Linked DNA regions of Homo sapiens. The protein of the gene in region 2 purifies or fractionates together with the protein of the main gene of each other region. This does not show direct contact. Each region holds a gene or a part of one and is shown on either strand. Other genes may lie near its edges.

The links.
Region 1: the proteins of TNFRSF19 (region 2) and CRNN purify together in Homo sapiens (affinity purification with mass spectrometry; 2 studies listed by BioGRID and IntAct, with this or other methods). This does not show direct contact.
Region 3: the proteins of TNFRSF19 (region 2) and ZNF865 purify together in Homo sapiens (affinity purification with mass spectrometry; 2 studies listed by BioGRID and IntAct, with this or other methods). This does not show direct contact.
Region 4: the proteins of TNFRSF19 (region 2) and AMY1C purify together in Homo sapiens (affinity purification with mass spectrometry, with the first as the bait; 2 studies listed by BioGRID). This does not show direct contact.

Annotation. Positions count from the first base shown.
Region 1 is NC_000001.11:152,410,726-152,418,361, forward strand, and holds the start of CRNN (cornulin), read right to left. Parts: upstream 3,539-7,636; 5' UTR 3,489-3,538; intron 1,522-3,488; 5' UTR 1,509-1,521; coding exon 1,371-1,508; intron 219-1,370; coding exon 1-218. UniProt on the Homo sapiens protein: Promotes cell proliferation, G1/S cell cycle progression and induces expression of the cell cycle regulator CCND1. Regulates proliferation induced by pro-inflammatory cytokine response via activation of NFKB1 and PI3K/AKT signaling pathways.
Region 2 is NC_000013.11:23,572,767-23,580,543, reverse strand, and holds part of TNFRSF19 (tumor necrosis factor receptor superfamily member 19 isoform 2 precursor), read right to left. Parts: intron 1,185-7,777; exon of another isoform or gene 1,015-1,184; intron 1-1,014. UniProt on the Homo sapiens protein: Can mediate activation of JNK and NF-kappa-B. May promote caspase-independent cell death.
Region 3 is NC_000019.10:55,608,171-55,615,947, reverse strand, and holds part of ZNF865 (zinc finger protein 865), read right to left. Parts: intron 2,356-7,777; 5' UTR 2,330-2,355; coding exon 1-2,329. UniProt on the Homo sapiens protein: May be involved in transcriptional regulation.
Region 4 is NC_000001.11:103,752,775-103,759,846, reverse strand, and holds the end of AMY1C (alpha-amylase 1C precursor), read right to left. Parts: coding exon 7,038-7,072; intron 6,299-7,037; coding exon 6,165-6,298; intron 5,349-6,164; coding exon 5,226-5,348; intron 5,133-5,225; coding exon 5,033-5,132; intron 3,053-5,032; coding exon 2,934-3,052; intron 2,824-2,933; coding exon 2,698-2,823; intron 1,379-2,697; coding exon 1,189-1,378; 3' UTR 1,155-1,188; downstream 1-1,154. UniProt on the Homo sapiens protein: Calcium-binding enzyme that initiates starch digestion in the oral cavity.

The DNA.
Region 1 (7,636 bases), on a different chromosome or scaffold from region 2:
CTTCTCTGTCCTTCGCCCAGCTCCTGCGAGGCCCCAGAGTGGAGGCTTCCAGACTCTTGAGAGCCGCAGGCTCCCTCAGCACTCTCGCTCAGTGTCTTGAAACAGGCCTGGGCAACTTTAAACACTAAGACCAGGAATTCCTTGAATTCCACAGTCCCTGTGTGGTCTTCATCCAGCAGACGCAGGACCTCATCCACAGTTGCTGGATCGTGGGGTTTCTGAGGAGAAGATGAGGTGGAGTCAGCATCCCTCCCCTGAGGAGGACATGGGCAGGTCCCTTCCAATCTGCTGCCAGCTTCCCCTGCCTCAGACCCCACACTACACACACATACGGCTAGAGCAGCAGCAAGACTTAATTGCCTTTATTTTTTTTTAGTCCCGTCTCTCTCCCTCAAGTGTAGAGAGCATTTTTTGTTTGGTAGCCTCTATTTGGCACAATTTCTGGGCTACAGGAAAATTAGATAAAGATTTATTGAAGAGTTAATAAATTATTGAATTCACAATGCAACTGTTTGGGCTCTCAAGTTGACTGTCTGGGCTGCCCTTGGCACCTTGCCCCTGGCACTGAGGCCTTAGTCTCTTCAGCAGGCCCAGCACAAAGAGCAGCAGGTTGGGAACACAGCCCCATGGGAATTCTGTGCGCTCCTCATTGAGGCCCAGATGTTTCCCCATGATAAAGAGGGAGGGAAGCAGTGGGCCCCTGCAGCGCTGCCCTGAGCATGTGGATGCAGCATCCTTCTGTGCCCATATGTCCTTGTCCCTAAGGCCATCATCATCCTGGTTGCTTTAGATGCAAACCAAAGACAGGAAAGTGCATCAAGGCCTTGGTTCTGGTTTGCCAGGTGGGGTGGGGTGAGGCTCCAAAGTCTCCCCCTAGCTATTAACAACCTGCTCTTCAAAATTTCATTTCTGATGTGATCAGTCTGCTAATATTTTTGAGTAACTGCTTCGTGCAAGCCCAGAGCTATGCTTCTAATGAATGTCTATGAATGGATGATTACATTTCAGATAGACGTGGGAAATATTTACTGTATCAAATTTAAGAGGCGGCAGAAAGCAGCAATTATTTTCATTTTGAAATATTCCAAGGCTCTGCTCCTGTCTGAGTTGTCCTTTTAGAGCCCTTTTACCTTGTCTTTAAGTTAGAATTAATTAAAACCAAGGTTTTAATCTAAAGAGCCAGGACTTGCCAACTCCCATGACCATCTCTGGTTCTTTCACCTTTTTTTCTGCCTGCACAGCTGCCATCTGTCCCGGCAGGCCTGGGTTTAGCTGCTGCCTCCTCAAATTCCCCAGGCAAGGCCTCTGCAGGCAAACCAGGTTTCACTCTCCTGCTATGTCCCCTCTCCACCCGGCTCAGCACACCGTACCACAATCACATCGGCAAACTCTTGCTCCAAGAGTCTTTTCAGCTCCCCTCGGGTGAGCGCTGTGCAGTTGCCCTCCGTCCTTGCATAGCGCCTGAAGGCCTCGATGATCCCATTAATGTTTTGCAGTAACTGAGGCATCTTTGAAGTCAACCTGGAAAAGATGAAAAGTTCCCTTGGAGGCTCCATAATCAACCTCAGCTATTTCCTTTATAGCACGTCTGCTGCTAGGTCTTTCCTTGCACGTTCAGCTCTGTTTTTAGTTTTCCTTTGTCCTTTCCTACATAATGCATCTTATGTATGGGAAGGAGGAGCACACAGGATGGAGGCAGGTTCCTGAGTCAGGATTAAATGCTGGCCCCACCACTTAAGTATGGTGTGAGCTGGGACAAGTTGCTTTGCCTCTCCATGCCTCAGTTTACTACTCATTGTAATTGAAGGTGATATTAGTACTCTGTGGGATTATTGTGAAGATTTAAAGACATAATTCATAAAAAGCACTTGGCAGATGCCTGGCTTATATTAAGTGCTCCTTATTAAATATAATTATTATGCTATTATATACATATACACACATATAATTTTTGTACACCTATATAATCACTTTCCTGTACATCATCTCTTCTAATCCTTATTATTTCCACTTTTTTTTATAGGTGAGGAAACAGGCTCAGAGAAGTTAGGCCACACAATTTTTAAGGAGCCAAGAAATCCTAGGATCCATTTTTCCTTAACCCAAATGCAATGGGCTTTCTAGAATGTACCCTGTGGACAGGATTTATTTATTTATCACAAGGGTGTTAGGGTCCCATCGGGAACACCAAAAGGAAGTAAATACATCTGTGAGTCAACCCCTGTCTTGGATGGGAGCCAAGCAGAAATTCCAGGGACACAGCCCTCCCTTCTTGTTTTTTTTGGGAAAGTGGGAAGAAACTGGGCTACCACCTGCTGGGAATGCTCAGGAGGGGGGAACCTTCTTTGGGTGGGAGGCCTTCCAGTTCTGAGGGTCCAAGTTTCTCTGCATGTCGCCTCTGTCCACAGCCCTGAGACTTATCAGAGAAGTCAGCTTGCCCAACAGGCACGTGGCTCCATCAGGCCCAGATTTCTGGTGACCTATGAGTTGGTTCCTAATCAAAGGGAAAGCTTTTCTTTTTCATTAGCCAGAAATCTAGAGGTAGGTTGAGGTGAGGCCTGGGTTTGGTTGCATGAGCAAAAGGAAAAGAGACTTGAAGATTCATTAAGCAGAAGCCTTGGAGAGACCCAAAGGAGGAGATGGTATCAAAGATGACAAGTCTCAAATGCAAGGGGAGATGGAGCCTGTAGCAGCTGGAAAGCCAGAGAGAGGATGGGACGAGGCAGATATAGGTAGGAGAAGAAAGAGAAAAAAGGAAGGAAGGAGACTTGAGTTCTAGAAAAAGCAGATTAGTGTGGCCATGAGGACTCAGTAAGTCATAGCAAAAGGTGGGCTGTTCAGGAGAAACCCTTTCTAGGACCTGGTAACCAACAATTTCAGGCAAACTTTTCATCAAGGTAAAAAACTGGGGATGTTTTCCTCAACATAGATGAAAAATATCTTTCTTTTTTTTTAAAACCATGTAGCAGACTTTAACCACTGACCTTTAGATAATAAAATAATAAGATGACCTTTTAGTTACATTTTAGATTCCTTAGAAAAATCTACACATATTTTGCCTAAATATCACCCTGGTGTAGGAGAGGGGAATCATGTAAACCCCTTCATCCATGACACAGTTTGATCTTATTGTCTAGGTTGGCATAAGTAAACTGATTCTGATCCCATAGACTCTCAGCACTGCAAAGAAGCTTCCAGAGCCTTAGAAAAAAGAAACCTTTGCTGATCCAGGAAGGCACATGGGTGGCCCCATAGCCGCTGCCCACACAGTTTCCCAGTGAGAGGAGCTGCTCCCAGGCCAGCCTCAGGGAGGAGGAGAAAGCCTGATTGCTTCAGGAGAGCATGTTTCCCAACGGTAGCGTTGGTTTGCCCAGTGCTCACAGCTAGCTCTGAAGGATGCATAGTCCATACCTGACTGCCCCAGTTTTATGAGCTCAGATCACCAAGACACTGAGAATGAGAAAGAGGTTTCTTATGAGGGGACTTACCTAATGCCCAGGTGGGATGAAACAAGTGGCTGTTAAGTGGTGTGAGGAGTACCAGGTCAGTGTGATGAGAACCTTTTATAGGGGTTTTAACCAAGGCTCTTGTTTTAGACAGGATATCCTGCCCTATGGGAAGGCTTGATTCATCCAAGATCCAGCCCAGCCCAGCCACACCTCCTCTTGTCTCTGTTTTACCTGCTGATGTGTGACTGCCTTGGTCTAATTAACAGGCCCCTCCTACCACATTTGGTACCTTCTGTAGCTGAGTCCTCTTGACAGGGAAGCTTCTTTCCATTGTGATGGGCTCAGCAGTGCTTGGTACAGGCTGGGGTCCTGGTGAACATTCTTTGTCTCTATGAGCCTACAAAGTTATGGGACTCTTTCCTTTTTTTTTTTTTTTTTTTTTTGAGATGGAGTCCTGCTCTGTCGCCCAGGCTGGAGTGCAGTGGTGCGATCTTGGCTCACTGCAACCTCCGCCTCCTGGGTTCAAGCAATTCCCTGCCTCAGACTCCTGAGTAGCTGGGATTACAGGTGCCTGCCACCATGCCCAGTTAATTTTTGTATTTTTAGTAGAGACAGGGTTTCACCATGTTGAACAGGCTGATCTTGAACTCCTGACCTCATGATTCACCTGCCTCTGCCTCCCAAAGTGCTGGGATTATAGGTGTGAGCCACCGTGCCTGGCCACTGTTTCCTTTTTTAATATAAATGTTCAAGAATATATCTATTGAGGTTAACTTTTACAAAGTAGCCACTCTGAGAGGGCACACATGTTTTTGTGGTGATGTTACTTAGAACTGTTATTACTTAGAACATTTTTTGAATTCTTGTTTTGTAAGTGCCTTTCACACCTAGTGTATGAGACACAAGAAAGCCAGTTTCATCTCTTTAAAGTTGGTCTCATTTTTAATTAAAACAAAAAAAGTTAATACCTTCCCCACCCCATGCTATGGGTAGGTAGCATTTTGTAGCTGATGAGAAAAAAGGCTTACCATGATCATGTGGTAACTCCTCATTGCAAGGACAGGAAACTCAACTGGTGGCTAATCAGCAAATATTTATGGAAAGCTTGCTCCATTTCAGGCAGAGGGCTAAGGCCCTAGGAATACAGTGTTGAATACGATGGCAGCAGTTTCAACTCTCATGAAGTCTATAGCCTGGCCATCCCAGGGGTAAGTCCCCAAGAGGTTAATGATAATGGTATTGCCATTTCATTTCATTTGATTTTATTCCATTTTCATTACCATCTCATCTTATTTGATCTCCCTAGCAATCCTCTGAGGTGGTATGGCTAAGCCCAATTCATAAATGAGAACACTGAGAAATCCTCAGAGAAGTAGCCACTCTGTGAAGCGGAGACGGTGCTGGACTAGAGCCCCTCAGACTCCAGGCCTGTGTTCTCTCTGTTGCACCATGCTGCCATTTATTCTTCTCTCATTGAGTTTTGGCACCTTATGAACATCACACTTATCCTCAATGCATGAAGAACCATTCCTGAGGAGGAAGTTTTCTGAGCTCAGAAGCCAAGTCCCAAAGAGTGCTCTTGAGTGGCACTTTGCAGATAATATATACTGTGTAGCTTCCTGAGTGACTCTGGAAGGGAAAGCCATCTTTACCATCCTCACTTATAGATCAGCATGCAACAGACAGGAAAGGGAACAACAGGATAGGAAGGCATGGTAAGGGCCTTGGTTGAAGAGACTGGTGTATTGAGGGCAGCCCTGTAGCAACAGCACAGCCTCCAGCACTTCCCCTCAGGGCACAGAGCACTGGGGAGTTCCAGACTGCAGGAGGGCAGGATGCAGGCTTTGTGTTTGGAGAGATCTGTCTACATGGGGACAGGTTGGCTCCAGTCCTGGGGTGAAGGTGGGGTAGGCATACCAGCCAGGGAAAAGCAGAGTAGGGGCTTCAACCTTTGGGAGCAAGAGGGGGCTGAGGTTGCTTCTGCCTGATCAGAGTTAGAAGAAGGCCAGTATGAGAGGGTGAAGTTGGAGAACAAGAGGGAGAGCCGATTAGACCTTCTTCTGTGGTGGTGTTTGAAGCTTTTTCTGATGGGGCTTAGAACTTCCAGAAAGGTTTGGGAACTGAGGGTAAGTTAGGGAAGTAACAAGCCAGAGGCTGTATCTAGAAGATGAATATTTGGTAGGTATTATTAACCCAATTTATAGATGAAGAAACCAAGGCACAGAGAGTAAGTAAGTAAACTTAAGTAAACTACCTAAGGTCACATAGCTAGGAAGTTAGACCTGAATTTGAACTTAGGTCTGCCTGCCTCCAAAGCCTAATAGGTCTTTATGTGTGCCTGGGGCAGGACTGAGCTGTGAGGAGCTGGGGCACCATAGAAGTAGAGGTTAAAGAACTGTATGTGTGTGCTGGGCCAGTGGAGGTGGGTTGAAGTGTGCAGGTGGGGCTGGGGGAGATGAGTTGGCAGAGATTGGGACTGAGCCTGTAATTGACTGTGTAAGTTTGTTAGTTTATAAAGTTGGTGAGGAGATGTTATAAGTTAGTGTGCAAGTTGTCAGAATCAAAATGGAGTCACTTGTCTTCAAAAAAATCCTTGACAAATATAGAGCTAAGGAAGGCTGCGAAGAGAGAGTTCTCATGCTTGTACACCTGATAACACAACTATCACAAAAGACTGCAAAAACCACAACCTTACACAAAGGCCATAATAGCCTTACACAACAAACACTTCTGTGAGGACATCAGTCCAGCAGCTGCCTGTCCAACTTCATATTAGCATCACCATTGTTATTGATCTTTGTAGCCAAGAATACACATTTCAATAAAATTATGTAATTTTCATTGTTTTTCCTGTAAGAACTTTTGTTTTCCTTTACCTCCTGAATATGCACGTAGTTTACTATGGCACATGTATTCCCATTGCAATGCCCTATTCTCAAATAGGTAACTTTTTTTTTAAGAGAGATTCACTGTGGTTATTATTTAAGTTGACATTAGTGAGTCTACTTAGCAGTTACATTTTACGGGTATGCTGGAGGGCAGTGAGACCAGGTGCTGGATCAGCAACTCAGCAATGAAAACCCAGTTTTGCACTTTGACTCCTTCTTATACACTTACTCAACAATGTATTGCTGACCTCTACTTGATTTATTTCTACAAGATACAAGCAGTATTTGCCACACTTAGTGGGCTATAAATTAAGATTGCTTTCCAGAAAATTAGCCCAATTGGGCAAACAGGCTTTACACACCAAAAATAGTTATTTTAAAATGAAAAGTAGAAATTTTTAGAATGCTAACTAAAAAATATTGTCAAATATCACAAGGTCTGGGGTAAAGAATCACTGCTCAGGAATATGAGAGATCAGGGTCTATGTCAGCAACACCCCCTACCTGTGCTTGTTTTGGTTTGCTAGTTTTATTTTACTTTATTTTATTTGCTAAGTGCCTACTATGTACAGACACTGTGCTAAAAACTTACACATATCATTTTATTTAACCCTCACAACAACCCTATGGTAGCAAAGATATTATCCCAATTTCATAGATGAAGAAATTATCATTAACTAACTTAATTTTCCAAAGACAGAAAATAAATGGTAAAGGCAGGATTTGAACCCAAACCTGTTCAACTTCAGAGCCCAGCATCTTAACCTCTCTGCTTTGCATCTTGGCTGAAGTTTCTTATCTGAAGTCTGGAAAATTCCCTTTGACTTAAACCCAGCTCAACATGGTATGTTCCAGCTTAAACACTACGTGAACTAGCTATGGGACCACAGAGAGTAACAAACAGGGCAAGTTCTCAAATCCAGAGGCCCTGTGAGATGCCGGGGACAAAGCCCAAGGAAATAATCTCTCTTCATACTGACAGTTCTCCTTCTTCCCCCTTCCCCTTTGTTCAGTGGCAAAATCCAGAATGTTTGGCAAAAGCCTCTATAAGTTCAGCCAGGGGGAACAGCTGGGCTTTCATGCAGGTGGTGCTTTTCTTTGGGTTCCCTCCAGTCCTACATCATGATCGTTATCTCCTGACTGCCCCAAACAGCTATGTACTTACCACACACACACATACACACACTCGCGCGCGCATACACACACTCGCGCGCACGCGCGCGCGCACACACACACACACACACACACACACACATACACACACAGAGGCCGAGGCAGACTGCTCAGCAGGCTAAACTC
Region 2 (7,777 bases):
TAAATCCTGAAGTAACGCAATGTAATCCTCCCTTTTGCATCTAATATCTGATCATGAAATGACAACACTAAGAAATATCGTTTGCATGAGGTATGTTTAACAATAACTGTTTCCTGTTTACATAAAGAAATTGTTTGGTTTTGTAGTCAAAGAAACTGTCATGGGGTAAAAACTACGTCTTCATACATATCTTGGGTTAAACTGTTTCAGTTAAAAGAAACACTGAACAATGGTGATGATTTTGTATGCATATTGAGTCCTTTATTAACATGCAAACAAATGACATGGGTTTCTTACAATAGTGAACGGAGACTGGATGACTAGTGCACTACCATCAAAACAGATCACAGAATTTTGATCCGCCAAACTTGATCTCCAGGAGTATATTAGCCAAATTTCTGTCCCATGAGATGGCATTACACGCATTGTAAGAGCTGGCTTTCTCACTCTCTAAATCTATCACAGGCTCTACTCATCAATATACTAATAATTCCTGCTGAACTCTAAGGAACTCTTTCCCACAGAAGGAATATACCCTGGGCCGCTCACAGACAACGCTCTCCCGCCGCTGGCGCTGGTCCGGGATGCGGCCCCGAGACCCCTGCAGCCGCGCGCTGGCTCAGGGGACCTCCGCAGGACGCGGGCGGGCGCCGGGGCCGGGTCGGGCTTGGGCAGAGTGACAGGCTCCCAGTCGTGAGCCTCACAAGCAGATCTATTTACAATATCCCGGATAGGAGTCCAGGTCGCGTCGCTCGCGTCGCCCGCGGGGACCCGGCGTGAATTCACACGCTCCCCTCCCACCGCCTCGCCGCCTGTCACGGCCCCGAGACCCGGTCAGCCCCTTCGGGGGTTCCCTTCGCCGCGCAGTACTCCGCCCGTGAGCAGCCCCCGCCTGCGCTCCTCCCTCCCTAGGGCGGCCGCCTCCACTCCCGGCTCCCACCCAGCGGGGATCCACCAGGGCGAGGGCTGAAGACCTCGCGGGACGCCGCGCGCCGGGGACAGCGACGCACCTACCTTCCCAGCCACCTGGGAGGCTGCAGGTCCGGGCCGGAGCCCGAGGCTCAGGGGCGCGCGGAGCAGTCCTGGTTAAGGCGCAGGGCGCGGGGTTGCATGGGGGTCCAGTCCAGCGTGCACACCGTGCACCTCCCAGCGCAGGGCTCCGCGCTCTCCCGTAGCCCGGCAACGGCCGCCACCCCAGAGCCCCGCCCACTAGGAGCCCCGCTCAGGGCACCGCCCACCCGGGCCCCGCCCTCACCGCGGCTCTCGCCGTGGCTCCGCCCCCGTCCAGAGCCCCGCCCCCAGCGCACACTGCGTCAGCCGGACTTGCTCTGCAGCTGGGTTCTTTGGAGGCCCCCACTCCGCGGCTACTGAAGCGGATGAGTGTGAGGCTGACTGGGGGCTTGGGGATGGGGGACCGGAGACCACCAAGAACATGGCTGTGTTGGGAAACTTTCCTTCAGAGCAGAGAGGGAGGGTTCCTTTCCGCCGGGGTGTTCCCCACCTTTCAGCCTTTCCCGCGTGGGCCCGCATCCCAGCCAGAGGGGATACGGCGGCCAGGTCTGCGCTGCTGCGCCTGAGCTCAGGTCGGCAGAGGTCGCAGACCTCGGCTCCTCAGCCGGCAGGGACTCGCAGGTGCGCGTTCCCACGGACGCCTCCCGGGGAAGCCCGAGTTCGCCTCCTGCAGGCCGGGAAGCACTCGCCCCGAGACGGCCGCACCCTCGCAGCGGAAGGGCGTCTGCACCACAGCTGTAGCACCAGCGCGTGCGAGGCGGGGCCAGGGCCGGGGACTCACTGGGCAGTTTTGCTGAAAGGGTTAAGAGAATCGCGTCTGTAAAATACTTTTCCACCAGTAGAATGCTGTAAAAGTGCAAGCAGTATTGTTCTATTCGTTCACCCAAGATACGGTGCATGACTTTGGTACCAAGGCATCCACCGTTTCTCACGTGTTGGTTTTGACTTCCCACTCAACTGCACTGTGTGGATGGACCCAAGTCCCTGTTTCTTGTCTATACCCCAAGGCCCACTGGAGCCCCTCCATCAGTATTTGTTGAATGAATGAGTGAATAGGTTGTTGTATTTAATTGCCCAAAAGCACAGCTTGTGATCCCAGGCTTCCAACGGCGTAGCACTATACTAGGTACTTGTGAACAATGTTAAAAATATTATTCCCGATGTCACACCTTGATAGAGGTTGTATATTTCAAATCTAACACATCCAGAATATAGATCCCAATAACGACTTATTGGTAAACGATTTCCAAATGATGTACGTTATCTAATTTGAACCTCAAGGCAAGTGTGTGCTTCCCTGTCCCATCTCCCAGCGGCTACCCGATCAGACTCCAGCCCTCAGTGCACATCACTACCATATTCATTCCCACATCCCGCTGAACTTCTTTATCTGTTTCCTTCCCCAGCTACACCTGGATCTCCCGAGGGCATCTCCTAATTCCTTGATATCCCGGGGCCTAGCACACGATGGATACTCAGCACTTCTAAGCTGAGTTACTGCATCTTCCTTTGCAAGGTCTCACGCAGTCCCCCATCGTCCTCTCTTTGTCTTGGTGCCCACCACCTCCTTCACCACCATGCAGACCCTCCCCACCCCTCACCACAGCACTGCCTCGGTCATCAACCCCGCTTCCCGCCTTTCATCACTGCTACTGTCAGGCTGAAGAGTCACAGGAGGTTCCTCACTGTAAAGAATGGATTCTGCGCTCCTTAGATTAGCATTCCGAGATGTCCAGGTGCAGCCCTACACCTATTTCCAGCCTTGCCTCGCCTCTGGAGCAGGCTTTATAAACTGCGCCGCGTGGCCCTTCCTTTGCTCTCTACTTCCTCTTCGTGCTCTCCCATCTTACCTCTGAGCTTTACCTACTTGTCTTACTCCAGTTTCAGCACCTCGCTCAAAAGCCACGGCTCTCACGAGTTTTCCCTCAATTCTGAGCCTATGTATTTCCTTGCTCCAAGGTTTGTGGCAATTTAGCACTTGCCCATTGTGTCCTGTATCATAAGATTCTGTGTACTAACTTTCTTCTTCAAGGAGTTAAAAACACTTTCAGAGAAGGGGCATATTTTGTTCCGATTTGTATCTCTGACAGTATCAATCATTCAAATAAATGTTCAACCAAAGCTTTCTGAGTGGAATTGAATCTGCCAGCTCAGGAACTACCTTCTCTGACTTCAACCAAATGTTCTTCTTCTCTCTGACCTCCTTTTGTCCTTAGAGACAGTAGTAACACATTACTCAGTTCATTAGTTCTTGAATCATTTTACGTGTTTTGACTGATCTTCCCGGTTAGCCTGTTAGCTTACAACAGAGAGAGAACCTATTGTTAGCCTGAATGGGCTTGGGCATCTGACAATCTGGTCCCAATGCCAACCTGTCATTCAGTAGTTGCATGACTTTGGAAAAGTTACTTAACCTCTCTAAGTTTCTGGTTCTCCATATGTAAAATGAGTTGCTTCATTGATGGTTGGTAAGTATTAATAGATAAGGTATTTAAAGTGCTTAGGCCAATGCCTAGCACTTACTAAATAGCCATTCTTAGTAGCAATATATCCTCTTACAATGCCTAGCATCAATCAATAAATGATCATTGACGGTGAGAAAAAGGACATTGAACCTCTGGACTCCAGCTGTTAGATTCATCTAATTCTTTAAAGAGACTCATTAAGTTAAACACAGTTGGCCCTCCACATCCATGGATTTTACATCATGGCTTCAACCAACTGCAGATTGAAAATATTTGAAAAAAAATGAATGGTTGTGTCTGTACTGAACATGTACACTTTATTTTGTCATTATTCCCTAAACAATATGGTATAACAACTATGTACACAGCATTGACATTGTATTAGATATTATAAGTAATACAGAGATGATTCAGAGCATATGCAAATTTATACCATTTTTTGTAAGGGACTTGAGCATTTGCAGATTTTGGTATCCAAGAGGGTGTCCTGAAAGCAGTCCCCCTCAGATGCTGAGGGAACAAACACTATAGTTCCCACTTTCCCTCATTTGAGTGTTGTATGATTTGGAGACAGTGTCTGAACAAAAACTCAGGCACACAATTGAGCACCATAGTAGTATAAAAAGAGTTCTGTGGGCCGGGTGCAGTGGCTCACGCTTGTAATCCAGGCACTTTGGGAGGCCGAGGCAGGCGGATCACCTGAGGTCAGGAGTTTGAGACCAGCCTGGCTAACATGGCGAAACCTCGTCTCTGTAAAAATACAAAAATTAGCCAGGCATGGTGGCAGGTGCCTGTAATCCCAGCTACTAGGGAGGCTGAGGCAGGAGAATTATTTGAACCCGGGAGGCAGAGGTTGCAGTGAGCCAAAATCACGCCACTGCACTCCAGCCTGGGGGACAGAGCAAGACTCGGTCTCAAAAAAAAAAAAAAAGAATTCTGTGATCCTTAGGCTCATGCAAAATGAAACTGGATGCTTGTAATTAGGACTGGGAGCATTTTACTTCCTTTAAAACACTGCATATCATTAATGGGTTAAAATTTTTACTGGAAAAGCAAAATTGCTATGACAATCTTGATAGAGGTGTTTGTTTTTAAGATTTATGTTAAAAGTTAGTTTTCTGAAGATAGTTTTAGCAATATCTGAGCTGACACAAAGTGCATTTGTTTAAAATATTTTTCCCCAAAAGTTGAACTAAGGAAAACTTGAAAAACCCCTGAAAGAATAGTTTCAGTGATAAATTAGCTCGCTGGTAGCAAAGCTAATGAAAAATTGCCTAACTTCTAGTCATTTCTAGTGTAAATCACTATTCCTTGGGAAAAAAGTGGAATAGAATGCAAGCTACAGGAGAATATGAAATTTTGTCTCTTTGGTTTACAGTTTCTGGCACATAGTAAGTTCTCATTAAAAATTTGTTGGATGAATTAGTAATTGAGAGTGAGAATCTCAAAGAGTAATAAAGTTTTCCAAATACAGTTAAGAAAATAAGTGGAGGAGGAACCCCCAAGACCTAGCTATTTAAGTAATTCCCGATACCCACTACTGCCAATTATAGACTATCAGCATGGGGCTGAGGGAGCACCGTGAGGCCAATGCCCAGTGACTTCCTGAATGCTGCACACCAAGTTAATTAACAAAGCTGGAATCAGAATCTGGGCTTTCTGTATCTTAACATAATCTTCACCATACCATGGGTGCGTAAACCAATATATATGAAAAACCCAAGGAGGCTATTTTTATAGCCCCCTCCTGTAAGTGGAGCTCAAGACACTTACAGAGCAAAGTTGTTACAAGTTGCAGCACTTGCACTGATCTTTGTGAGTTTGGCCCTGAGTACCTCATTGGCTAGACCCTTTTCATGAGTTCGATGAGGGAAGAGACAGTCCATTGACTCTCCTTCTCTCCTTCCTGATGAACATGGTGGACTCCCCGACCTAGGGCTGGCTTGAGGCCAGGCTGGCTGGGCAGCAGCCCATGGTGCTAAGCTATAGAGCCACCAAAGAATGGGGGGCATTTAACAGGATGGAGAAAACTATCTTTATCAGAACTCCTCTCAAAGACAGTGGGTTATGTTGGAAGGAATGGTTTTATGAAGTCATTGGAAACCCCCACATGACTTCTCCTTCCCCTTCTCATCAAAGAGAAAATTTAAGTCACAAAGGAGGGTTTTAAACTACCTACTTAATCTAAAGAAGTGAGTATTGATTTTGGCAAGTGGGTGGGTTTGAGGTAACAACTTTGGAGCCAAAGCTGAATGACTAGTGACAGTAGAGGAGAAATTAAAGCACAGCCAACACAGCCACCAGGGAGCCTCCCTCTGCCCTCCCATCACAGAGCTCACCCAGGTGGACAACGTTTTAAAGAACCATCCTTTAAAGGGGACAAAATCACTCATTCTTCCAGGGTGGCTTGGACTGGCCTTGCCATCACAGAAAGAGAATCCGACTAAACCAATGCCAGATGGTTGAGTTCAGTTCACTCCTGAAGCAGAGGGAGAACAGATTATGCCTTCATGGCTTAGGGAGGTCCTTTATGGCCATCCTGACAGAAAATACTATTAAAAATGTCTAATAGTTCTTACAAAATATATAAAAGGAAAAAAAAAAACTGGAGCCCATATTTTTGGCCAAAATTTTGGCTATAATGTTTGCTGACAGTCAAGTTCAGCTTTGTGTAATTCTTAAAAAGAATGAATCACCTAGCCCCAGAACAAAAAAAATGTAGATCACAATGCTGCCACTGAATTATTCCTATAATCTTGCACATGTTATTTATCCTTGCACAAGTACTTGATATTGAATTAATTGATAATGAGTGAATTAATAAATATTAGGTCATGTTAGTAATAATCTTGTATATGTAGGAATCCTAAAGAGGGTGATAAGCCCTATTATGAGGGCAGTTGTTTGGCCATGAGAGTCCTGTATTTGTATAAAATTTTATTAGTAACTAAATTAAAATTTTTCACACAAGATATAGATAGATAGATTTTTTTTTTTTTTTTTTTTGAGACAGAGTCTCACTCTGTCACCCAGGCTGGAGTGCAGTGGCGCCATCTCGGCTCACTGAAAGCTCTGCCTCCCGGGTTCACACCATTTTTCTGCCTCAGCCTCCCAAGTAGCTGGGACTACAGGCGCCTGCCACCTTGTCCGGCTAATTTTTTGTATTTTTAGTAGAGATGGGGTTTCACCATGTTAGCCAGGATGGTCTCGATCTCCTGACCTCGTGATCCGTCTGCCTCGGCCTCCCAAAGTGCTGGGATTACAGGCGTGAGCCACCGCTCCTGGCCCCAAGATATATTTTTTCAAGGAAGAAAAGCAAAGAGATAATGAAAACATGCTCAAGAGTCTTAACATAATCAAACATGATATGAAACACATATCATATCATGTTTGAAATGCACATTGAGTTTGTCAACTGAAGTTTCACAGAATCCCACTGGGAATTTCCCTGGAGGAAAATTAACCTTTAATTATTAAACTGTTTTTGGATGCCACTGGCATCATCTAAGAAAATATCAATTCCTTCAAAACACACAAATATGTGTTGATATAATGCCAAACTCGTATGTACACACACACACAGAGGCAAACACACAAATACATATATAATTCCACATCACATTGATGCATTAAACTTTTTGTGAAAATTATTTTACGTGTTAAATTATGTTAAATTATGGGTAGCAGCTACTGTGTTTAGACAGCTTAGAAGTCCAGAAGTAGAAGGAACAGTTGGAAAATAATCAGACGAATCCAGCTGACTGACATATCTATCATGGAAACAAAAAAAAAATGCACTACAATAGGAAGTGGCTGTCTTTATTTTTCAAACTAATATTGTTCTTTGATGAGCTACAGAGTGCATTTGTTTAAGCAGTTGTTGGAAAGCAGACCCTGCATGGTAGACTGGAAAGAACATTGGACTAGAACTGGGAAAATCAGCCATGTGACCTTGTTAAGATAGGGACATTCGTTTTCTATAGCCTCAGTTTCCTCATCTGTAAAATGGCCATAAAAATTCCAATTCTGCTTATTTCATAAAGATGATGTGATCAACTCCCTCACTTCACACATGAGGAAACTCTCTTGAGGTCATATAGCTAATTGGTGACAGTATCAGGACTCAACATAAAAGTCTTTTGAAGACTTGGACTTTCTGTAGTAACAAAGCTGCCATTGAAGCAACAGATAGGAAAGTGCTTTGAAAAATGTCACATAAGGGTTTTGTTCAGTAGAAGTAATAGGACTATATCTGCCAAAGTCATTTTGTGGCAATTAATTAGGAAATGCCTTTTGAGACT
Region 3 (7,777 bases), on a different chromosome or scaffold from region 2:
CCGCCCCGCCTGCGTCCTCACCCCCAGACACCCCTGCCAGTGCCGCCACGGCCGCCCCCACCTCCCCCGCCAGCCCGTTGTCCAGCACGCTGGCCGCATCCGTGCCGCTGGAGCCGTCCGGGGGCTGCAGGCCGCCGGGTGCGGGCGGGAGCAGGCGCTCGGGGGCGGCCTGGTGGACCAGCTTGTGCCACATGAGGTTCTCGATGAAGCCGAAGGTCTTGCCGCAGGCGTCGCAGCCGTATGGCTTCTCTGCCATGTGGACCTCCTTGTGACTCATGACGTGAAAGAGATCCGGGAAGTGCTCGCCGCAGTCCGAGCAGGCGTAGCTCAGCCCATCGGTGGGCCCTGCAGACGTGCCCGAGGCCCCGGGCCCACAGGCCCCCGGTGTGCCTTGGGTGGAGGGGAGGCCGGCTGCCCCGGCCAGGGCGCAGGGCAGCTGGAGCCGGTGCACCTGGCGGTGGCGGGTGAGGCTCTGCGGGTAGCCGAAGACCTTGCCGCAGAGCTCGCACTTGTAGGGCCGCTCGCGCGTGTGCACCACGTGATGCTTGCTCAAGTGGAAGGATTCGCGGAAGCGCTTCCCACACACGGGGCACTGGTGGGGCTTCTCGCCCGTGTGGATGCGCTCATGGCGCTTCAGGGTCTCGCGGCGCCCGAAGCCGCGCCCGCAGATGCCGCAGCAGAACGTCTTTCCTGGGACGCTGGCGCCCGAGCCTCCCGCCCCGCTGGTCCCCGCGCCGCCGAGCAGCAGCGGGTGGGCGCCCAGGAGCGGGACGGGCACAGCGCCGTACACCACCGCCGCCGCGGCCGCCGCCGCCTTCTCGCTGTCTGTGGTGGGAGGGTCGGGGGGCAGGAGGTACGGGCCCGGGGGGAAGGTGGGCGGGGGCTGCGGGGCCGAGGCCGCCCCGTCCTTGGGCGCCTCCGCAGCGGCAGCGGGCGGGGCGTGGGCGGCCTTGTGGCGGAGCAGGCTCTGCGGAGCCGAGTAGGACTTGCCGCACAGGTCGCAGGGGTACACGGGCCGAGGCCCCCCGGCGCCCGCCCCCGCGTGGGCCGCCTGGTGCTTGAGGAGGTAGGAGGCGTCGCGGAAGGCCTTCCCGCAGATGCCGCAGGGCAGGCGCAGGAGGTCGGCCGAGTGCGTCTTCACGTGGCGCTTCAGACTCTCCCTGCGGTTGAAGCTTTTGCTGCACACGGAGCAGGAGAAGGGCTTCTCGCCCGTGTGGATGATCTGGTGCTGGTGGAGGTGACTGGGCTTCTTGAAAACCTTCCAGCAGAGTGGGCAGGCGAACGGGCCATCGCCACCCCCGGTGGCAGGAGGGGGCACCCCAACACCAGCAGGGGCGGCGCTCCCGTCTGCGGAGGGGGCAGGCGCCACGGGCGTGGCTGGAGGGCCCGAGGACACCGTGGAGGGGGCGGCGGCGGTGGCGGCGCTGGCAGCGGGTGCTGGGAGGCCCAGCGGCGGGAGGTGGGGGCCGGGCTGGGGCGGGCCCCCCGCGGCCGGTGGCACGTCCTTGTGGCAGCGGCGGTGGCGGATGAGGCTGGACACGTGGTTGTAGGTGCGGCCGCAGACGCCGCATTCGTAGGGCCTCTCCCCCGAGTGCACCAGCATGTGCTGGACCAGGTGCGAGGACTGCTTGAAGGACTTCTGGCACACGCCGCAGGGGAAGCGCCGCTCCATCAGGTACTTCAGTCTCCGGAAGTAGCCCTTGTCGTCCTTGGTGGGGTCGCAGGCCGCCGCCGCGGGGGGTCCTGGCGGGGTCTGCGAGGGGGCAGGAAGCGGCCCTGGGGCCCCCGCGGGAGCGCCCAGCCCAGGCGTCACCCCCGGCCCGGACGCGGGCCCTCCTCGCTTCAGGTTCCCAAACAAGTGCTGGTGCCCCGAGAGGTCCACGATGCCCCACTGCGGAGTGGGGAAAGCAGCGTCAAAGAGGGGAGGAGGGGGCGCCCCGAAGGCGGGCGGCAGGGGCGGATCGGGCTTCTTGGCTTGGGAAGAGGAAGAGGACGAAGATGACGACGAGGAGGACGAAGAGGAGGAGGAGGAGGACGAGGACGAGGACGAGGAGGGCACCTCCGCCTTGGGCTTGAAGGTGGACTGGGGCGGGTAGTCATACTGCGGGGGAGGGGGCTGCGGCGGGGGCTGCGGCGGGGGGCCGGGGGCGCAGGGCAGGGCCGCCACCGCCTTGGCGTGTTCCCCATACAGTTCCATGGGCTCGAAGCGCTGGTGGTTGAGGAATTCCAGGAAGTCGAAGGGGTAGCTCTGGAAGTGCACCCCGTCCTCGCCCCCGATGCCGCTGCTCCCGCCACCCCCGGCGCCGCTGCCCGCTGGGTTCGCCTCCATCTCCGGCGGGTGGGAGACGGGAGACCCTGTGAAGAGGAGGACGGGGCTGAGGACACGGCCGCGGCGCTGGGTCTCCCCGCAGGTGAATGGAGCTGTGCGCCCACTCATCCATCCTTGTGCGGATCACCCCCTAGCCTTCCAGATTTAGGCTTCCAGTCCCTCTGCCTGTCCACCCCAAAGGGCAGCCCTTCCTCTTGGCTCCCTGGCCCCAGGACTCTCCTACTCACCTTCACCTTCCCTCTCTGTGTTCTCAACTCCCACCCACTCCCCACCTCTTTTCCTTCTCTAATTCCTTCCATCTCTCCCCATCTTTTCTGGGGTCCTGACACAGCTTTGTAGAGGGGACCCTCTCCTCCACACCACCTGCAGGCCCTCTATTATTTGTAGAAACGGGGTTTTGCTTTGTTGCCCAGGCTGGTCTGAAACTCCTGGACTCACGCCATCCTCCAGCCTCCACCTCCCAAAGTGCTGGGTGATTACAGATGTGAGCCAGCGCGCTGGCCTGGGCCGTCTCTACTTTCTCTCCTTTTCAGACTCCAATTGTCCAAGCATCCTGGGGGCCTCTGGACTCAGTTTTCTTTCCAAACCCTCTCAGACCCTCTGCTGTCTCTCCATACTCCTGCACCCTACCCCACCCACAGCCCTCCGTCCTCATCCCTTCAGGTTTTATCCTAAAATGAGCATAATGATAAGGGGAATCACAGTTTCTATCAGCGTAATTAGGAGGGAGGACTCTGGGGCCAGAATCAAATGTAAGCCCTGCCACTTCTAGCTGTGTGGCCACGGGCAAGTGACTGAACCTCTCTGTGCCTCCATTTCCTCATCTACACCTGGGGACCACAAAGCACATGCCTACCTCACAGGACTGTGAGGATTCAACACACACATATGTGCAAGGCTCTTAGGGGGCGGTTCCTGGCACTCTGTAAGCACTCCGTACATAGAAGGTATGGACTGGGCACAGTGGCTGACAGCTGTCATCCCAGCACTTTGGGAGGCTGAGGCAGGAGAGCTGCTTGAGCCCGGGAGGTGAAGGCTACAATGAGCTGTGATCACATCACTGTACTCCAGCCTGGGTGACAGAGCAAGACCTTGGCTCTAAAAACTAAAATTAAAAAATTGAAGATACGATACTGTTATCACTGTTACTACTAGTAGTAGAAATGGGGAAGTCAGGACAAGCCTAGAGAACTGAAAAAAGTCAGTATGGGGAGTGCACTCTTTTAATATTAATAGACAGTAGAAAGGAGAATTTGCTTGCCTGGGAGAAACAAATTCCAGCAAGGGGGCTGGCATATAGTCAGAAGGTGGTCTGATACAATCAAAACACAGACCCTGGGCTTGGACAGACCTGGGTTCAAATCCCATCTCCACTGGGATCCACACTTTCTCCATGTTTAAAATGGGGGAACCCCTATACCGCAGGGAGATTCAACAGGGTTGGAACAGAACATAATGAAACACATGCATCAGCAGAATGCATTCAACCCCCTGAGCTATTTGTACCATCCATGACATCACACACCTGGGCTAAGCCTAGCAACAGAAGCAGGGAGCTTGAGTTCCATCCTTGCCCTTAGTGGGGCTTCTCCTGACCCCCCCATGTCCTTGCCCTTAGTGGGGCTTCTCCTGACCCTCCACCCCCGGCATCATTCTCTGGCACCTCCTTTACACGACTTTTCATTCCAGATGGCAGGTATCCATGTGTGTACCCCACACCACACCAGACCCTCAGCACCCGTAACTGATCTCCGAGTTCTTGGTCTACTTGCTGGCCTGGGGAAGCACCTCCACCAAGTGGGCGGAGGGTGAGTCGGTGAAGGGCCCATGAGGTCTGACCCGCTTCCTGTCCATCATCCCTACCCGATGGGGGCCAGGCTCTAAGCCCAGCCCGCTATGGGGGTCAAGGGGGTTCCTACCAAGGCCTGGACCCTTTATCCTCTATCCATCGGGCTGCTCTCTCCTCCCACAGGTGAGGGGTGAGTGTCTCTTCCACCCCCACCCCAAACGCCATCCTGGAGTGAGATATTTTTAGTCTCCAGCTCCGGGTGTCCTTGTCCTTGGACAAGACTCAACATCCCATGCCCTTCACACCCCCTCCGTTTAATCTGATCTCCGGAAAGAGGACAGGCTTGGCTGGGGTGGTAATTGGAAGGCTGTAGGTGGAACCTAAGTTGGGGAGACAGCTCTGGAGGGGGCTGACTGGCCAGGGAGGCAAACACAGGCCATAAGGATGCAGGGAATAGGGGGTGATTTAGGGCGCTATGGGGAGGGAGGGCAAGAGTGTTTGGGGAAAGAAGCCCCTGACTAGCTTGTCTCCACTAGAGCACAGGTTAATCGTAGCTGTCACTGACTGGACATCTCCTAGAGGCCCGCCACGGTTCTAAGCACGTTACACATATTAATTCACTGACTCCCCACAACTCTAAATAGGGGCAGCTGTTCCCGCCGTTGGATAAATTAGAAAACTAAGGCATGGAGAGGCAAAGTGAGTTGCCATGGTCACGGAGTAGGAGTCTGGATCAATGGGCTTGAACCCCATTCCCACCCTTGCCCCCACAGCAGTGTTTCACTGGGCTGTTCCCCGAGTGAACAAAGGTGAGGGGAGAACTATCAGGATAAGAGCTTTATTTAGGGATGTCTTCTGGGTTATGAGGGGTGTCTATACAAGGGGCCTGGTGGGAGAGGGTGGTGGTTACTTTCTCTTCTGCCTACAGTGTTCTTCGCCAGATTTCAACAAGACTCCCTCTGGAGCCTCCTTGGGTCTCTACTCAGCACTCCCCACCCCATCACTCTCCAGTCCCTCATCCAGCCGCAGGTGTTTCATTATAGTTATTGCCACCAACTCATGTCATTCCTTTTCTGTGTGTTTACTGTTTGGCCCCTCTCTAGGAAAGCAAGGACTTGGCCTGTCTTGCTCGCCCCTGTGACCCCAGCACTTAGCGTAGCACTGGCCCAGTGTGGGTGCTTGACAAATATCTGCTGGTATGTGAAAAGGAAACACCACCTTCCTAAATTACCAATGGGTCCACAAAGAAATCATACATTAGAAAATGCTGGCCAGGTGCGGTGGCCCACACCTGTAATCCCGGCACTTTGGGAGGCCAAGGCAGGAGGATCACCTGAGGTTAGGAGTTCGACACCAGTCTGGCCTACATGGCGAAACCCCGTCTCTACTAAAAATACAAAAATTAGCCAGGCTTGGTGGTGGGCGCCTGTAATCCCAGCTACTTGGGAGGCTGAGGCAGGAGAATCGCTTGAACTCGGGAGGTGGAGGTTGCAGTGAGCTGAGATCGTGCCACTGCACTCCAGCCTGGGCAACAAGAGCGCGACTCCATCTCAAAAACACAAACAAACAAAAAGCAAAAAAACTGCTTAGCAATTAATGAAAATGAAAACACAACATACCAAAGCTGAGGAGGTGCAGCCAAAGCAATGCTCAGAGGGAAATGCACAGCTGTGAATGTCTATCTTGGTATTTGTGGAATGAACAAAGCGATGAGACTAAGCTGATCAAACTCCCAGAGGAACGGAGGGGGACATGTAGCAGAAATGGAGCTAAATGATCCCAGGAATTCCTGGGAGAAGCAATTCTGGGGACAGTGATGTTATGAGGAGGGCACTGAGGGCAGGGTGTGGAGATGCTGAAGGGGATACATCAGTGGTGGACAGAATTGATCAGGCTTATGATAATCTCCACTAGGAAACCAGAAACATTCCCTCTTTCATACAACTCAAGCCTAAACTGGTATCTTTTTAAGAGGGGATGTCATAGGAGGGTTTTATGCAGAGAGAAGCATGATGGGGAGGGACCCACCCCTCCACCACCACCACCAAGGGACAGGAGTCCCACAGCAAGTGTATTAACGGTTCACATTTATTGTTTGACCAGTTTGATATTTGTTATTGCCTGGAGGCAGCACAGTCCTGTACCATGACTGGGCCCATCTTATAAGTGGGGAAACTGAGGAGCAGCATGGGGAAGGCATTCCTCCAAGGTCATGTGGCCAATAAAGAGGAAAGCAGGTAACTGATTCCAGGTCTTTCTGATGCCAGACTGTGGGCCGTTCTGCTGCAACAACGCTGCCTTGTGATGAAATTCTGGTTTGTTAATAAAGAGTAACGTGCGCATATAACACTGGATGTGTGCTTTCTACCAGCCCAGCACTCTTGTAACTCTGATGTGTGTGAGCTCAACGAATCCTCCCAGTAACCCTAGAAGATGGTTACAAGCATTGACTCTGAAATACAAAGGAAGAGACTGAGGGCCAGAGAGATAAATTAAACTTCCAAAGTCAGGCCAGGCATGGTGGCTCATGCCTGTAATGCCAGCACTTTGGGAGGCCGAGGTGGGTGGATCAACTATAGTCAGGAGTTCGAGACTAGCCTGGCCAATATATAGTGAAACCCCGTCTCTACTAAAAATAAAAAAATTAGCCGGGTGTGGTGGTGCACACCTGTAGTTCCAGCTAGTGGGGAAGCTGAGGCAGGATAATTGCTTGAACCCAGGACACAGAGGTTGCAGTGAGCTCACGCCACTGCACTCCAGCCTGGGTGACAGAGTGAGACTCTGTTTCTCAAAAACAAACAAACAAACTTCTAAAGTCACATTGTTAACTAGTGGCAGGGCCAGTGGTTGAAGAAAGGCAGCAAGGCTCCAGAGTCCCATCACATGCTGTCTTTCGGTATTTCTCCCTCCAAAATGAAGGAGGACCCCCGCCCCCAATCCCACTTCATACTGGAAACATGCATTGCTCCACCCATCTCCCTGCCAACAAATCCCAAGTCTCTTGGCTTGACCCAAGACCAGAACAAGTCACCAACATTTGTTGACCTCTAACAAGCATTGTACTTAGGTGCCTTATGTGGCTTGTTTCATTCAAACTTCACAACAAATGTGTTATTATTATTCCCATTTTACTGACAGGAGGACTATAACCAAAGCATGTCTATCCTCGGTCCCAAACCAAACAGTAACCCCATCTCATTCAAAAGCCACAGTCCTGACTGGGCACGGTGGCTCACGCCTGTAATCCCAGCATTTTTGGAGGCCAAGGCAGGCGGATCACCTGAGGTCGGGAGTTTGAGACCAGCCTGACCAACATGGAGAAACCCCATCTCTACTAAAAATACAAAATTAGCTGGGCGTGGTGGCACATGCCTGTAATCCCAGCTACTCGGGAGGCTGAGGCAGGAGAATCACTTGAACCCGGGAGGCGGAGGTTGCAGCGAGCTAAGATCACACCACTGCACTCCAGCCTGGGCAACAAGAGCGAAACTCCTTTTCAAAAAAAAAAAAAAAAAAAGCCACAGTCCTTACAATGACCTCCACAGTCTCCTGGCTGCTCTTCCCATGTGCCCACTCTATTCCTGCTGCAGGGCCTTTGCGCTGGCTGTTGCTGTTGCCTGTAATATTCTGACTCTCAGGCAACCATCTCGCTCACCCCT
Region 4 (7,072 bases), on a different chromosome or scaffold from region 2:
ACAGAAAATGCATGATGGATTCCATTTTGGGAGAAACCTCTGTTTTCCTCATGGAATCCCAGAATCTAGAGGCTGATCAATCCTGCTCAAAATCTGTTTTTGTCTTACAGCTATACAAGTTGATTAGGCCCTAGAAACTTCGTGGTTTGCTATCCCTGTTCTTAAAGGGCTCTACTGGGAAGCCAGTAATGCAATTAGGAAATGGGACGAGAAGAAATCTTAGAGCTACTGGATCTTCTTCTGTTTGTCTGTGTAGCAATATATGTGTTGTGTGTGATGTCTGTAACGAGGACCAATTGATTGCCTTAAATAAAAATAAGCACTTAAATCAAATATTTTAGAGGAAAGTTAAAACCGTAATGCCTTTTAGTTTATGTGTTTTTAAACTCTAAGAAATAAAAACTGTTTTAAAGATCAAATTGGAAAATGCAAATATCATCAATATGTAAATAGCAGGTTTAAATCACATAAATTAGATAAAAGGCTTGCTAAATATTTCAAGGTTGTAGGCTGCCTACTTTACAACTTGGTAAGGCCTGGGGACATATGAAATTAACCATGCCCTAACTAGAATGGAAAAAGTCAGACTTTATCTGCATCTAGTACATAATTAAAACAACTTACCAGGTTTACATTAAAGTTAAAAATTGCTAAGATTGACCATAAAAATATGTAAATAAGACAACTAAAAATAAATTTACATGCAAGGTGTGTAGGAACACTTAAATGTGTTTGTGGTAAAAGATTATAAAAAGGCATAAAAATGTAAATGTTGCCTATGGAAAAAGGATTCTTTTGAAACCTATGTAAGGGTAAAATTTGGCTTTCCTTCCCTTGTACAGATTTTTCATGTAATAGAGAAGAATAATGAAATATTTGGTTTGCCTTGTTGGTAGAATGCCAAGGAGAGAAAAGAGTAGACAGGAGACAAACTGTTTGGAAAGCTAAGTCTTACCTCTTAATGAGTAAAGATTGTTGCCTAGTTTTAAAATTTTTGAGTCATCCTTTTGCCAAAATAAATAACTTATGTGTAACCTGGAATTGTATTTCATACTATCAAGTGTCTTAAACCTCTTTTTACTAATTAGAGCTTTTATTTAAAATTAATGATATGTAACTATTACTGTATATGTAAGAAAAGAAACACACTTAGCTATTGCTTTGCGGATTTGCATTTAATTTTAAATTTTACAATTTAGATTCAGCATGAATTGCAATAAATGGATCTTCAGCAGAGTTACTAATAGAAAAATGAGCTTTGCCATCATCAGAAACGTAGATTTTAATGCCTGTGCAGTTGCCATTAATTTTATCTCCAGAAATGACATCACAGTATGTGCCAGCAGGAAGACCAGTTTGCAAAGTTAAAGAAAATGTCCTGTAAAATAAAATTTCAGATTTAACTTCAAAACAATGAAATCAAGAATACAGACTAACACAAATAAACAGCATAACTTTATGTTTTAGAACCCTAAGCAGTGAAGTCTCATTAAGAAGAAAACCCATATGCCTCCCTAGTAGGTGTAAACAGCTTTCTAGGACCAAAAGTAACCTTACAGAAAACCTACCAATTTCCTTTTCAGTAGTGAAAATATAACCGAAAAATCAAAGTTGAAGAATATCACCGAAGATTGGCGGGAGCGGTCACATTTTGATAAAGTGCTACCTTGGTAAAATCAAATTTTTTCTCAACTGAACTTAATGCCAATTACTTTAAAAATTTAAAGGGTATTATTTTTTTAACCTTCTTTTATTCTACATGAGGTCAAAAAGAATTTAGGGTGTACATAAAAACAATCTAGCATTTGTATGAGGAAGTGATAGTTTGAAATATAAAGCTTTTTCACAAAAGATTTTTTTGGTATTTTCATCCACAAAAGAAGGAAACTAAGGAAATAGACACGCATTTTTTTGGCAGGAAAGAGATCAACTTGACTTATATATTTTTGTATTTATTTATTTTTCATAAGTGAAGTATAATTTATACTAGAGTGAGCTAAGTATGAGTGTCAGTTGGCCTTGGACAGAGACAATTCAACTGTTTGCAAGGAGGTCTTCTCAGCTACAGTTTCGGGAATCATTTATACTACAGCCAAAGGATACAAAAATCACAGATGAAAGGCCAATAATGAGAAGTTTCAGAACTAAAACTCAAGTCTCCTGAAGCAAATCATTAACCACAAGATACATATTATTTATCCATATGCTTTAAAAATGTTATTTGTCACAAGGAGACAGAGAAGTGAAGAAAGTATACCAAAAAACTAGGTAGAGCTGTCATTGAGAAAAAGAGAAATAAAGATATTTTAGTACTGAGGCAGCATTTTTCCATGATTAAAAGAGCAGGACTATAAGAAACGTTCTTTTAATGATTTCACAATCCTTCTATTAATTACTTTGTGTATTTTGTGGCATGTGTAGGTAAGCATATGAATGTGCATTCTATATATGCATAAGATATTGCAAGGGTGCACAGAAAGGATTCTGCTTACAACAGAAAGCCCTTATGAAAACAGGAGAACGAAGGAGTAACAGCCATCATCCTTTTGCTTCTACCCAATTTTGATCTCTATTGTCTTCTCGCTCCACTGACTACATGATTTTTCAGATATGATAAATGTCAATGAACAGAAAAAAAAAAGAATAAACCAAGAACATACTGGTACAAAATATTATTTTTAATTGATATTTACTTACCAGTCATCATTGTTGAAAACAATGAATCCTCTGTTTCCTCTCCCAAAAGCCACTTGGTTGCTCCCATTATCATACCAGTTTGTAAAAGGCTGGCCATCCACTACATTGCGGAAATTAACCATGTTCCTAAAAACACAATACCATATAAAACGTTGATATTCTTAAACTTCAACTGTTTTAAATAAAGTGCTACGGAAATTTACTATTAGAGGACATGTCTAAATACATATTCTCACCTTATTTGGCGCCATCGATGTTCACAGACCCAGTCATTGCCACAAGTAGTGTCTGGATTAATAGTAACTTCTTTAGTTACTCCATTATCATTTGGTGGCCCAACCCAATCATTAACATCCTTAATTACAGGAGGAAAAGCCAAATTTTAGCATATATATATTTATCTCTTCCTTCTCCTTTAAACCAAACCCAACCTATCCTGTTACTTGTGTCTCTGCATTCAGTGACTTTATCTAGAATCCAATGCCTTCATTGATTTTTATAGCCCTTTACTGGGTCTTCATCATCTCTCTATCCTCTGGTTCTCTTTTGCCATATTTCAAACAAAGGTAGCAAATTGTTATCCTCTCCTTTTCATTCCAAGGCACTGCAAAGACTTCTTTGCTCTGTCACCCAGGCTGGAGTACAGTGGCATGATCGTAGCTCACTGCAGCCTTGATCTCCGAGGCTCAAGCGAACCTCCCATCTCAGCCTCCCAAGTAGCTAAGACTGTTGGTGTGCACCACCGCACCCAGCTAATTTTTTTTTTTTTTTTAATTTTCAGTAGAGGCAAGGTCTTGCTAGCTTGCCCAGATAGGTCTTGAACTCCTCAGGTCAGCTGACCTTCTCAGCTGGCCGCACACAGTGCTGGGATTATAGGTGTGAGCCACTGCACCTGGCCTGCAAGGGCTTCTTAACATCACTGTAAGCCATGCAATGGCATTGAAATGGGAAGGGCATTAGTACTAGAAACACCAGGATTAAAACATAGGCTCTATTACTAGTAGCTGAGAAAATTTAATCAATATAAATAATTTCTCTGTGTCTCAGTTTCCTCATTTGTAAAATGAGAATAATGAGTTCTTTTGCTATAAAAATTAAGTAATATATGTGAAAATGCCTTGAACATGACATATGCTAAATAAATATTGGAGGCCGTCATGCTTCTTTTTAGATAAATGTACAAAATACTACATCTGAACATTTTTTTTTATAAATTGACCATATTTTTAGTATTATGCTTTTCTGATTGGCACTTTAAGAAATCTTCATTAAAAAACACAGAGTAACCCTAGGAAGTTTATCAGTGTTCACCTTAAAATCACGTCATATGGTGAAAAGTGAACAAAACTTAAGAGTTTATAGCATGCAGCAGTCCTGTCAAAGTGGGAATGTTATAGTAATAGAAAAAATAAAAGAACTCTCTGACTCCTAACAACAGAAATAAGACCAATTAGTAGAAATTATAAGAAGTTGTCTCAATATAAAAGTACACCTTCTAAATATTAAAGCTGTTTAACAATAGAATCAGTTGTTATACATAGTAGCGGACTTCTCAAACTGAAAGGAATCTAAAAAAAGCTAGCTAGATATCTGTGTGACTCATAGGAAGGAGGAATTTCTGCTTTAGTTCTGAAGTCTCTGATGCTGTTTCTCAACCCTTTAGTTTAAAAGAAAACCTTCTACTAGCTTTCCAAATATCTTTACACTCTTATTTCTCTGTTCCTTTTTGAAACTACTCAGCAGAGTGATGTCTTTACCATACTCCCAAATATTTTTCTCATTCTTACCTTTCTTGGAATACTCTCTATAAATTTCTATCCTTTAGTACATACAATTTCCTTCCTCTTATAGTATACTTTCCCTATTTAACTCAGCTGAACTGGATCATTTGTTTCTATACCATATAACTTTTTAACAGTATTTAAAAGACATTTATATTGTTCTCACTACGGGCAGATGATGTTTTAAGTTCTCTACAAGGGTTGGCATCTATATTCTTCCAATTAAACCTGAGGAAGGTACGAAGTATATATTTTAATCCCTGTGCCTAGCTCTTATTTTTAAGTGGTTTTTTTAATTTTTATTTTTATTTTCCCTGCGGGCTAGGGGGATGTTTGTCATATCTCTGAAAAAGCTTGCTATTCTTTTTCAATGGAGAATATAAAGTTTATTCCTTTAATATAACCTGCATTACTAAATCACAACCCTGTATCAGGTTTACAATAATTAAATATTTGTTGAATAAATAAACACTTAATAGTTGTCATATTAAATTAGGAGAAGATTGCCTCTTTTTTCTTGAGAAAAGGATATTTTGAACAACTCCAAAACTTACTTTTCCATTTTCAAAATATCTTGGCCAACGGTAGCTTGACATTACTCGTGTAAATCCATAAGGATGAGCAAGCATAAATCCAACTGCCATTTTGTACAGCCTGAAAGTTACATAATTATATTATCATAGAATATCACAATATTCATACCATCATTAAAAGAGGTGTTAAAAAATAGAGAACTTGGTTTTCTACCTAGCATCCCAGAAGGTAAGTATAGAGGCTCCTCCAGCGCCATGTCCTCGTTGATTGTCATGGTTATCCACAAAGACAAGCGCTCTGTCAGAAGGCATGAAACCCCAACCTTCTCCCCAGTTCCTATTTTTGAAACATAAGATATACGTTGATGTATCATTTCACAATAGTTTGAGAGTAACTCTACTGTGCATCTCTTTCTGTAAGGCATGGCATCTGAAGATTAAATTCTTTCTCTAATTAGATGGTTACTCTGTAAGATATATATATATACACACACACACACAAACACACACTCACATATATATACACACACACCTCATAAACAAACACACGTGTGTAATCTACATATATATAGTCCATATTTGTATATACATGTATGGAATACTTATATTCATATTACAAATATAAAATGTTTGTTATTAAAAAATTTCCTTTCAGAGGTTTCAGCACATTATCATTTAGAGGCACTCCAGAAGGATCAATATCCACATCACATTATACAGAATGTCAAACTAGATTAAAATAAGGCTTTAATATTGTATTGTTATAATATAAATCATTTTACATTTCCAATTCGTATAAGTAAATACAATAGCATGGACACTTTGTACATACTTTATAAATGATAGGATCATTTTAATAATAACCTGGCTTTAAAAGATTATATGCAAACATCAGTCAAATCCAGTATATTCATCTTGTACGCAGACAGAAACTCCTAGGGTAAGTTTAGCGTTCCTAGGCATACTGTCTTGTGACAGACACTCTAAATACAAAAGATGATTGATTAGAGTTTAGGGCACTAGAATACTTATCATTAACAACTGACTCCTTAATAGTTGTCTGAATAAGAATGTTCCAGAAGATAACTCGCACTGGGGTAGTATGACTAACAGATCTATGAAATAGTTCAGGGGAAAAGTTGTATTTATTTACTTTAAGTAAGACATCTTCTCTCCATTCCACTTGCGAATAACTGTGCCGAGTTTTGCACCATACTTGAATTCTGTCACCCGGCCATTACCAAAGTAGTCACTGCTTTTAATTGGCTCACCACCCAGATCAATTACCTAGAAGAAATTTAGGAAAAAAAAACATTTTGCATAAGGACTTTAAAGCATTTTAACCGATAAGTTTATATTATATAAAAATTAGCTTTCAGCTATTTCTGAGTTATTTTAGACTTGTTGTGCTTTGTTCTTTAGAGACAGGGTCTTGCTATATCGTCCAGGATGGTCCCAAACTCCAGGCCTCAAGGAATTCTCCTGCCTCAGCCTCCCAAAGTGCTGAGTTACATGCAAGAGCCACCACGCCTGGTCCTATTTGTTATATGAAACGCTCAAAATCGTTTTCTTATTCTTATTATCTTCATCGGTAATATTCTTATATTCTTTTTTTGATAAAGTATACACTACAATATTGAAAGAAACATAATGTCAAAGTTACCTGTTGTCCTGTGAGAATACTTACCTAATTTTTAGTCTTGTACATCAATGATAATAATAACAGCTCACAGGAATACGATATTTACTATCTGACTGACTTTTTTTGATAAATATTAACTCATTTCATTTTCCAAAGAAAATAAAGACATAACTATTATCAGTATCCTACATTCTGTGTACCTCCATAAAACCTGTTGTGATAAAGAATTAGATATGCTGTATGTGAAGAAGAGGAGGTTAAAGAACACTGTTTTAAGGAAATGACTCAGTCTTTATCCTACAGAAATTGCATTTTTAATTGAATCTGCCGTGAATTTTCTAATGAATAGGATGATATTTTATATGCCTATATGTATTGACGTACCTCCTGGTAAATGAAAGGTTTACTACCTTCCGGGA